2 linked regions of the Homo sapiens genome follow. The protein of the gene in region 2 interacts with the protein of the main gene of each other region in a pairwise test. Each region holds a gene or a part of one and is shown on either strand. Other genes may lie near its edges.

Evidence for each region.
Region 1: the proteins of DNAJA3 (region 2) and NOC4L interact in binary tests that used the Homo sapiens proteins (3 or more experiments, as listed by UniProt).

What each region holds. Positions count from the first base shown.
Region 1 is NC_000012.12:132,147,385-132,151,134, forward strand, and holds part of NOC4L (nucleolar complex protein 4 homolog), read left to right. Parts: coding exon 1-4; intron 5-248; coding exon 249-398; intron 399-495; coding exon 496-595; intron 596-687; coding exon 688-722; intron 723-1,207; coding exon of another isoform or gene 1,208-1,224; coding exon 1,225-1,275; intron 1,276-1,399; coding exon 1,400-1,511; intron 1,512-3,596; coding exon 3,597-3,657; intron 3,658-3,750.
Region 2 is NC_000016.10:4,435,763-4,439,512, forward strand, and holds part of DNAJA3 (dnaJ homolog subfamily A member 3, mitochondrial), read left to right. Parts: intron 1-1,639; coding exon 1,640-1,723; intron 1,724-3,750. UniProt on the Homo sapiens protein: Modulates apoptotic signal transduction or effector structures within the mitochondrial matrix. Affect cytochrome C release from the mitochondria and caspase 3 activation, but not caspase 8 activation.

The DNA of each region.
Region 1 (3,750 bases), on a different chromosome or scaffold from region 2:
CAAGGTGAGGGCCTTGCTGGGGACTCCCAGAGGGCCTGGCTGGCTGGCCAGATCCCAGGATGGCCCCGTAGTGGGGGCGGGGCCTGCTGAGCTGAGCCTGGCTGTTGGCTGGGACACTCCTGTGGCTCCTGTGGCCCACCCAACCAGGAGGAGTCTGCCTGGGGGGCTCGATGGGGCAGGGCTGCCTGCCTGGACCTTGCTGGCGTATGCTGGGCCGGGCAGGGCTGCTCACTGGTCCTTGCCCCTAGTTGGTGGTGGGAGGCCTGCTGTCTCCTGAGGAGGACCAGAGCCTGCTCCTGTCCCAGTTCCGGGAGTACCTGGACTACGACGACACCCGCTACCACACCATGCAGGCAGCCGTGGATGCCGTGGCCCGGGTCACTGGCCAGCACCCCGAGGTGGGTGATGGGGTCCTGTCGCCAGCATCATGCTGTTGCCTCCCAGGGAGGCAGGGACTGGGGGGCGGCGTCCAGGCACTCAGGCCAGGCTCCGCAGGTGCCCCCCGCCTTTTGGAACAATGCCTTCACGCTGCTGTCTGCCGTGAGCCTGCCCCGCCGGGAGCCCACCGTCTCCAGCTTCTATGTGAAGCGGGCGGGTGAGTGTGCTGAGAGTCAGGGGCGGACAGGGCTGAGCCTTGGTCTGCCTCCCCTGCGGGTCAGGTGACCTTTGCCCTCGCTTTCCCTGCAGAGCTGTGGGACACCTGGAAGGTTGCTCACCTGAAGGTGAGTTGCTTCTGGAGAGCCGGGCACCCTCCCGGGTTTGGGGGTGTGTGTGGGGTGCATGTGAGACCCCATGGAGGCTGCCGCCTTCCTCACCAGAGGAAACTCCCAGGGTACAGGTGGCAGCTTGCACGGCCACCAGGTCACTCGAAGTGTGGGAGGTGACGAGACCTGTGAACTCGGGACCCTCCCTTGGGTCAGAGGCCACCGCCGCCTCTTGGAGTCAAGCCTCTGGTGCCACCTGTGGGCCCCGTGGGCTGTTTTGGGCGCAGCCCCCCTCTTGGCCATGGTCTTGCCAAAGCTGCTTTCTTGGCTGTTCTGAGACTCCAGCCTCGAGGGCAAGGCGTACCTGACTTGAATGGGGACAGGAAGAAGGAAGGCAGGGTCAGAAAAGTGGAGAGCAGGCTTGTGTTGGCTCAGGCTGGGCTTCGGGGTGCCCTGGCAGCTGCTCGGGCTCTGGTCTGGGGTGGGGAGGGCGGCGAGTGCAGTCTGGACCCCGTTGCAGGAGCACAGGAGGGTTTTCCAGGCCATGTGGCTCAGCTTCCTCAAGCACAAGGTAGGGGCCAGGCCGGGGAGGGGGCGGGGGCGGCATCCGGGTCTCCCCCAGGGCGGAGGCCTCACCCCGACCCGCCGGCCCCCGCCCACCCGCCCCTCACCCCCACCTGCCGGCCCCCGCCCAGCTGCCCCTCAGCCTCTACAAGAAGGTGCTGCTGATTGTGCATGACGCCATCCTGCCGCAGCTGGCGCAGCCCACGCTCATGATCGACTTCCTCACCCGCGCCTGCGACCTCGGTGAGTGCCGCCGCCTCGCTCACACCACACCCCTAATCCCCTCGGTGAGTGCCGCCGCCTCACTCCTACCACACCCCTAATCCCCTCGGTGAGTGCCGCCGCCTCACTCCTACCACACCCCTAATCCCCTCGGTGAGTGCCGCCGCCTCACTCACACCACACCCCTAATCCCCTCGGTGAGTGCCGCCGCCTCACTCCTACCACACCCCTAATCCCCTCGGTGAGTGCCGCCGCCTCACTCCTACCACACCCCTAATCCCCTCGGTGAGTGCCGCCGCCTCGCTCACACCACACCCCTAATCCCCTCGGTGAGTGCCGCCGCCTCGCTCACACCACACCCCTAATCCCCTCGGTGAGTGCCGCCGCCTCGCTCACACCACACCCCTAATCCCCTCGGTGAGTGCCGCCGCCTCGCTCACACCACACCCCTAATCCCCTCGGTGAGTGCCGCCGCCTCGCTCACACCACACCCCTAATCCCCTCGGTGAGTGCCGCCGCCTCGCTCACACCACACCCCTAATCCCCTCGGTGAGTGCCGCCGCCTCGCTCACACCACACCCCTAATCCCCTCGGTGAGTGCCGCCGCCTCGCTCACACCACACCCCTAATCCCCTCGGTGAGTGCCGCCGCCTCACTCACACCACACCCCTAATCCCCTCGGTGAGTGCCGCCGCCTCACTCACACCACACCCCTAATCCCCTCGGTGAGTGCCGCCGCCTCGCTCACACCACACCCCTAATCCCCTCGGTGAGTGCCGCCGCCTCACTCCTACCACACCCCTAATCCCCTCGGTGAGTGCGGCCGCCTCACTCACACCACACCCCTAATCCCCTCGGTGAGTGCGGCCGCCTCGCTCACACCACACCCCTAATCCCCTCGGTGAGTGCCGCCGCCTCGCTCACACCACACCCCTAATCCCCTCGGTGAGTGCCGCCGCCTCGCTCACACCACACCCCTAATCCCCTCGGTGAGTGCCGCCGCCTCACTCCTACCACACCCCTAATCCCCTCGGTGAGTGCCGCCGCCTCGCTCATACCACACCCCTAATCCCCTCGGTGAGTGCCGCCGCCTCACTCACACCACACCCCTAATCCCCTCGGTGAGTGCCGCCGCCTCGCTCACACCCCTAATCCCCTCGGTGAGTGCCGCCGCCTCGCTCACACCACACCCCTAATCCCCTCGGTGAGTGCCGCCGCCTCGCTCACACCACACCCCTAATCCCCTCGGTGAGTGCCGCCGCCTCGCTCACACCACACCCCTAATCCCCTCGGTGAGTGCCGCCGCCTCGCTCACACCACACCCCTAATCCCCTCGGTGAGTGCCGCCGCCTCGCTCACACCACACCCCTAATCCCCTCGGTGAGTGCCGCCGCCTCGCTCACACCACACCCCTAATCCCCTCGGTGAGTGCCGCCGCCTCGCTCACACCACACCCCTAATCCCCTCGGTGAGTGCCGCCGCCTCGCTCACACCACACCCCTAATCCCCTCGGTGAGTGCCGCCGCCTCGCTCACACCACACCCCTAATCCCCTCGGTGAGTGCCGCCGCCTCGCTCACACCACACCCCTAATCCCCTCGGTGAGTGCCGCCGCCTCGCTCACACCACACCCCTAATCCCCTCGGTGAGTGCCGCCGCCTCGCTCACACCACACCCCTAATCCCCTCGGTGAGTGCCGCCGCCTCGCTCATACCACACCCCTAATCCCCTCGGTGAGTGCCGCCGCCTCGCTCATACCACACCCCTAATCCCCTCGGTGAGTGCCGCCGCCTCGCTCATACCACACCCCTAATCCCCTCGGTGAGTGCCGCCGCCTCGCTCACACCACACCCCTAATCCCCTCGGTGAGTGCCGCCGCCTCGCTCACACCCCCAACCCCCACCCCGCAGCACCTCTTCCCCGATCCCACTGCCTCCACCCCCCACTCCCCTGCCCTGCATGTGGTCTCCAGCTTTGTGTCCGTGGGGGCTGTGGGAGGGGACAGCAGGGGCAGAGGCCACACTCCACAGACTTACACTCAGTGTGGGCAGGGGGTAGGGTGGGAGCGAGGTCACTGCAGCTCCAGCCTGTGTCTGTCTGTCTGCAGGGGGGGCCCTCAGCCTCTTGGCCTTGAACGGGCTGTTCATCTTGATTCACAAACACAACCTGTGAGTGTCACCAGGGGTGCAGGTCTTCTTCCCAGTCTGCCCAGCCCTGCTCCTCTGTCCCCTTCCCACCCTGCCCCACGGGGTCCCCGCTTT
Region 2 (3,750 bases):
TCATGAACAGTGCTGCTATATAGACATTCATATGTAAGTTTTTGTGTAGACATGTTTTCAGTTCTCTTGGATATTTAGGAGTATAGTTGCTGAGTCATATGGTAACTGGATGTTTAACCTTTTGAGAAGCTGCCAGCCTTTTTCAAAGCAGCTGCACCATTTTACATTCCCACCAGCAGCATATGAGGGCCATGATTTCTCCACATCCCAGTGAACACTTAACTATTATCGTCTGTCTTTTTAATTACGACCCTAGTGAATAAGAAATGCTATCTCGTTAGAGTTTCGATTTGCTTTTTCCCTGATGACTAATGATGGTGAGCATCTTTCTTGTGCATGTTGGCTATTAGTATGTCTTTGGAGAAACGTGTGTTTGGATCCATTGCCCACTTTTAACTGGGTTGTCTTTTTTTTTTAATTGGGTTGTAATGGAATGAACAGAGGCATGGGGACAGGAAGCAGAGATCCTGGCCTGTGAAGAGCGAATGGCCTGTCTCTTCCTGAGCTCAAGAGTCAGGTGCCTGATCCAAGAGTGGGAAAAGATTGAAAAGATGGAGGCTGGGTTGGACTCACATGACAGTTGATTTGAGGCCCTTAGTAAGTCCCAGAGACATAATTTAAGAGAAAGACTTAATTTAGAGAACCATTCAGATTTTTAGGCACGGAAGTAAAAAGATCAGGTAAAGCTGTAGCAATTACTGTATTTTATTTACCTACAAAAATAATTGAAACAGCAGAGACGTCTATTTATTCAGTCATTTTCTTCCCTTTTTAAAAATTTTTTCTTTTTTCAGACAGAGTCTCGCCGTGTGGCTCAGGCTGGAGTGCAGTGGTGCAGTCTTGGCTCACTGCAACCTCTGTCTCCTGGGCTCAAGCAATTCTCCTGCCTCAGCCTCCCGAGTACCTGTGTTTATAGGCGCGTGTGACCATACCTGGCTAATTTTTGTATTTTTAGTAGAGATGGGGTTTCGCCATGTTGGCCAGGCTGTTCTCAAACTCCTGACCTCTGGTGATCCACCCAGCTCAGCATCTCAAAGTGCTGGGATAACAGGCATGAGCCACTGCGCCCGGCCCCCTTTTTAAAAATTTGTTTTTCTTTTTTGTTCATTTACCTATTCTAAGCCATGCTGGGTGCTAAGGGCAAAGATACATCAGAATCAGTTCCTGCCCTCAAGTTAAGAGATGGATACATTAAAACAGATCATTATTATTATTATTTTGTGGGGCGGACAGAATCTCACTCCGTCACCTAGGCTGGAGTGCAGTGCCTCGATCTCTGCTCACTGCAACCTCCACCTCCCAGGTTCAAGTGATTCTCGTGCTTCAGCCTCCTGAGTAGCTGGGACCACAGGCATGTGCCACCACGCCTGACTAATTTTTTCTATTTTTGGTGGAGAGGGGTTTCGCTGTGTTGCCCAGGCTGGTGTTGAACTCCTGAGCTTAAGTGATCTGCCTGCCTTCACTTCCCAAAGTGTTGGGATTACAGGCGTGAGCCACTGCACCCAGCCGAGAGACAACTTTTATAAAGGGAACATAATTATGACTGGTATTTGGGGTTCTGTTGTATCGGGGGTTTTGTTGTTTCTGGTATTTGGGGTTCACATTGTATCTGGAGTAATTTATCATGTTTTTCCCTTAGCTTGCCAAGAAGTATCACCCTGACACAAATAAGGATGATCCCAAAGCCAAGGAGAAGTTCTCCCAGCTGGCAGAAGCCTATGAGGTAATATGACTTCGGTGCATGCGGTCACTGCTGTTCAGCTATGTGTATGAATCAAAGGTTGCATTGCTACCTGGGACAGCCTGGTGTGTCATACAGTCCAGTGTGAAGGCCATGTCCCTGCGCCAAGTAATCTTGTTAAGAAAAATAAAAAAAAAGAGATTCCAGGCCAAGCATGGTGGCTCACTCCTGTAGTCCTAGCACTTTGGGAAGCTGAGGCAGGAGGATCACTTGACCTCAGGAGTTGGCTTGACCCTAGGAGTTTGAGACCAGCTTGGGCAATGTAGTAAGACCACGTCTCTACAAAAAAAAAAAAAAAAATCACCAGGCGTGGTGGTGGCGCACCTGTAAACCCAGCTACTTGGGAGGCTGAGTCAGGTTCATCACTTGAGGGGCTCAAAGCTGCAGTGACCCATGATGCCATGATTGTGCCATAGAACTATGGTCTGGGCAACAGAAAAAGACCTTCTCTCAAAAAATAAAAAATTAAAAAAAAAACAAAACAACAACATTCTAAGACTAACTTGGAATCTCAATGAAGAACAGGATCCAGGCCAGGCGTGGTGGCTCATGCCTGTAATCCCAACACTTTGGGAGGCCGAGGCAGGTGGATCACCAGGTCAGGAGATCGAGACCATCCCGGCTAACACGGTGAAACCCCGTCTCTACTAAAAATAAAAAAAAATTAGCCGGGCATGGCGGCATGCGCCTGTAGTCCCAGGTGCTGGGGAGGCTGAGGCAGGAGAATGGCGTGAACCCGGGAGGCGGAGCTTGCAGTGAGCTGAGATTGCGCCACTGCACTCCAGCCTGGGCGACAGAGCAAGACCCCGTCTCAAAAAAAAAAAAAAGAACAGGATCCAATAATCTGTACTAATAAAGTTCCCCAGGTAATTTACACTTGTAGCTGGATTTGGGAATTCACAGTTGGATTAATTAATTCAGCCCTTATTCAATGACATCCCCTTCCTCCACCTCAGGGCATCACTGCTTTTTGGGGATAGAGGTTATTGTAAAAGTAGAAGCCCATTATTGTCCTATAAGAATGTCAATGTAATCAGAGGACAAAGCATACATCTCTGAAAACAGCTATTGACCCCACTTCCATAGTTTTCTGAAAGTAGACCTTTTTCCCAGATTTTTTGACAATCTTTTCTTTTTTTTTTTTTTTTTTTGCTTAAGAGACAGGGTCCCTCTATGTTGCCCAGGCTGGTCTTGAACTCCTGAGCTGAAGAGATCCTCCTGCCTCAGCCTCTCAAATTGCTAGGATTATAGGTGCAAGGCACCAGACCTGCCCGACTTTGGCCATCCTAAAGGGGTTCAGTATATATAGGAGCTCATATATCTATAAGAGTAGACAGCCACGTAGAAGAACAGGCTCAACTCAGTAAATCTTTTTTGAGTAAATATCTGTCAACTAGATCTAATGAAAAGTTTATTTACTAGTGTAATTTTAAAATAATATGTTCTTATTAGGTAACTCAAACTAATTGATAACATAACTAAACAGTCTTGGAACCTGCTTCTATGGAAGATAAGATTAATTTTTTTTTTTTTTTCAAGAGTTGAGGTCTCAGCCAGGTGCAGTGGCTTACGTCTATAATCCCTATAATCCCAGCACTTTGGGAGGCCAAGACAGGCAGATCAGGAGGTCAGGAGTTTGAGACCAGCCTGGCCAAGAGACCAGCCTGAGCAATATGGTGAAACCCCATCTCTACTAAAAATACAAAAATTAGCCAGGTGTGGTGGTGGGTGCCTGTAATCCCAGCTATTCAGGAGGCTGAGGCAGGAGAATTGCTTGAACCCGGGAGGCATCAGTGAGCCGAAGATTGCGCCATTGTACTCCAGCCTGGGCAACAGAGCGAGACTCCCAATCAAAAAAAAAAAAAAAAGAGTTGAGGTCTCACTCTGTTACCTAGGCTGGAGTGTAGTGGCGAGATCACAGCTCACTGCAGTCTCAAACTCTTGGGCTCAAGCAGTTTTCCTGCCTCAACCTCAACTTCCTGAGTAGCTGGGACTACAGGTTCCCCACT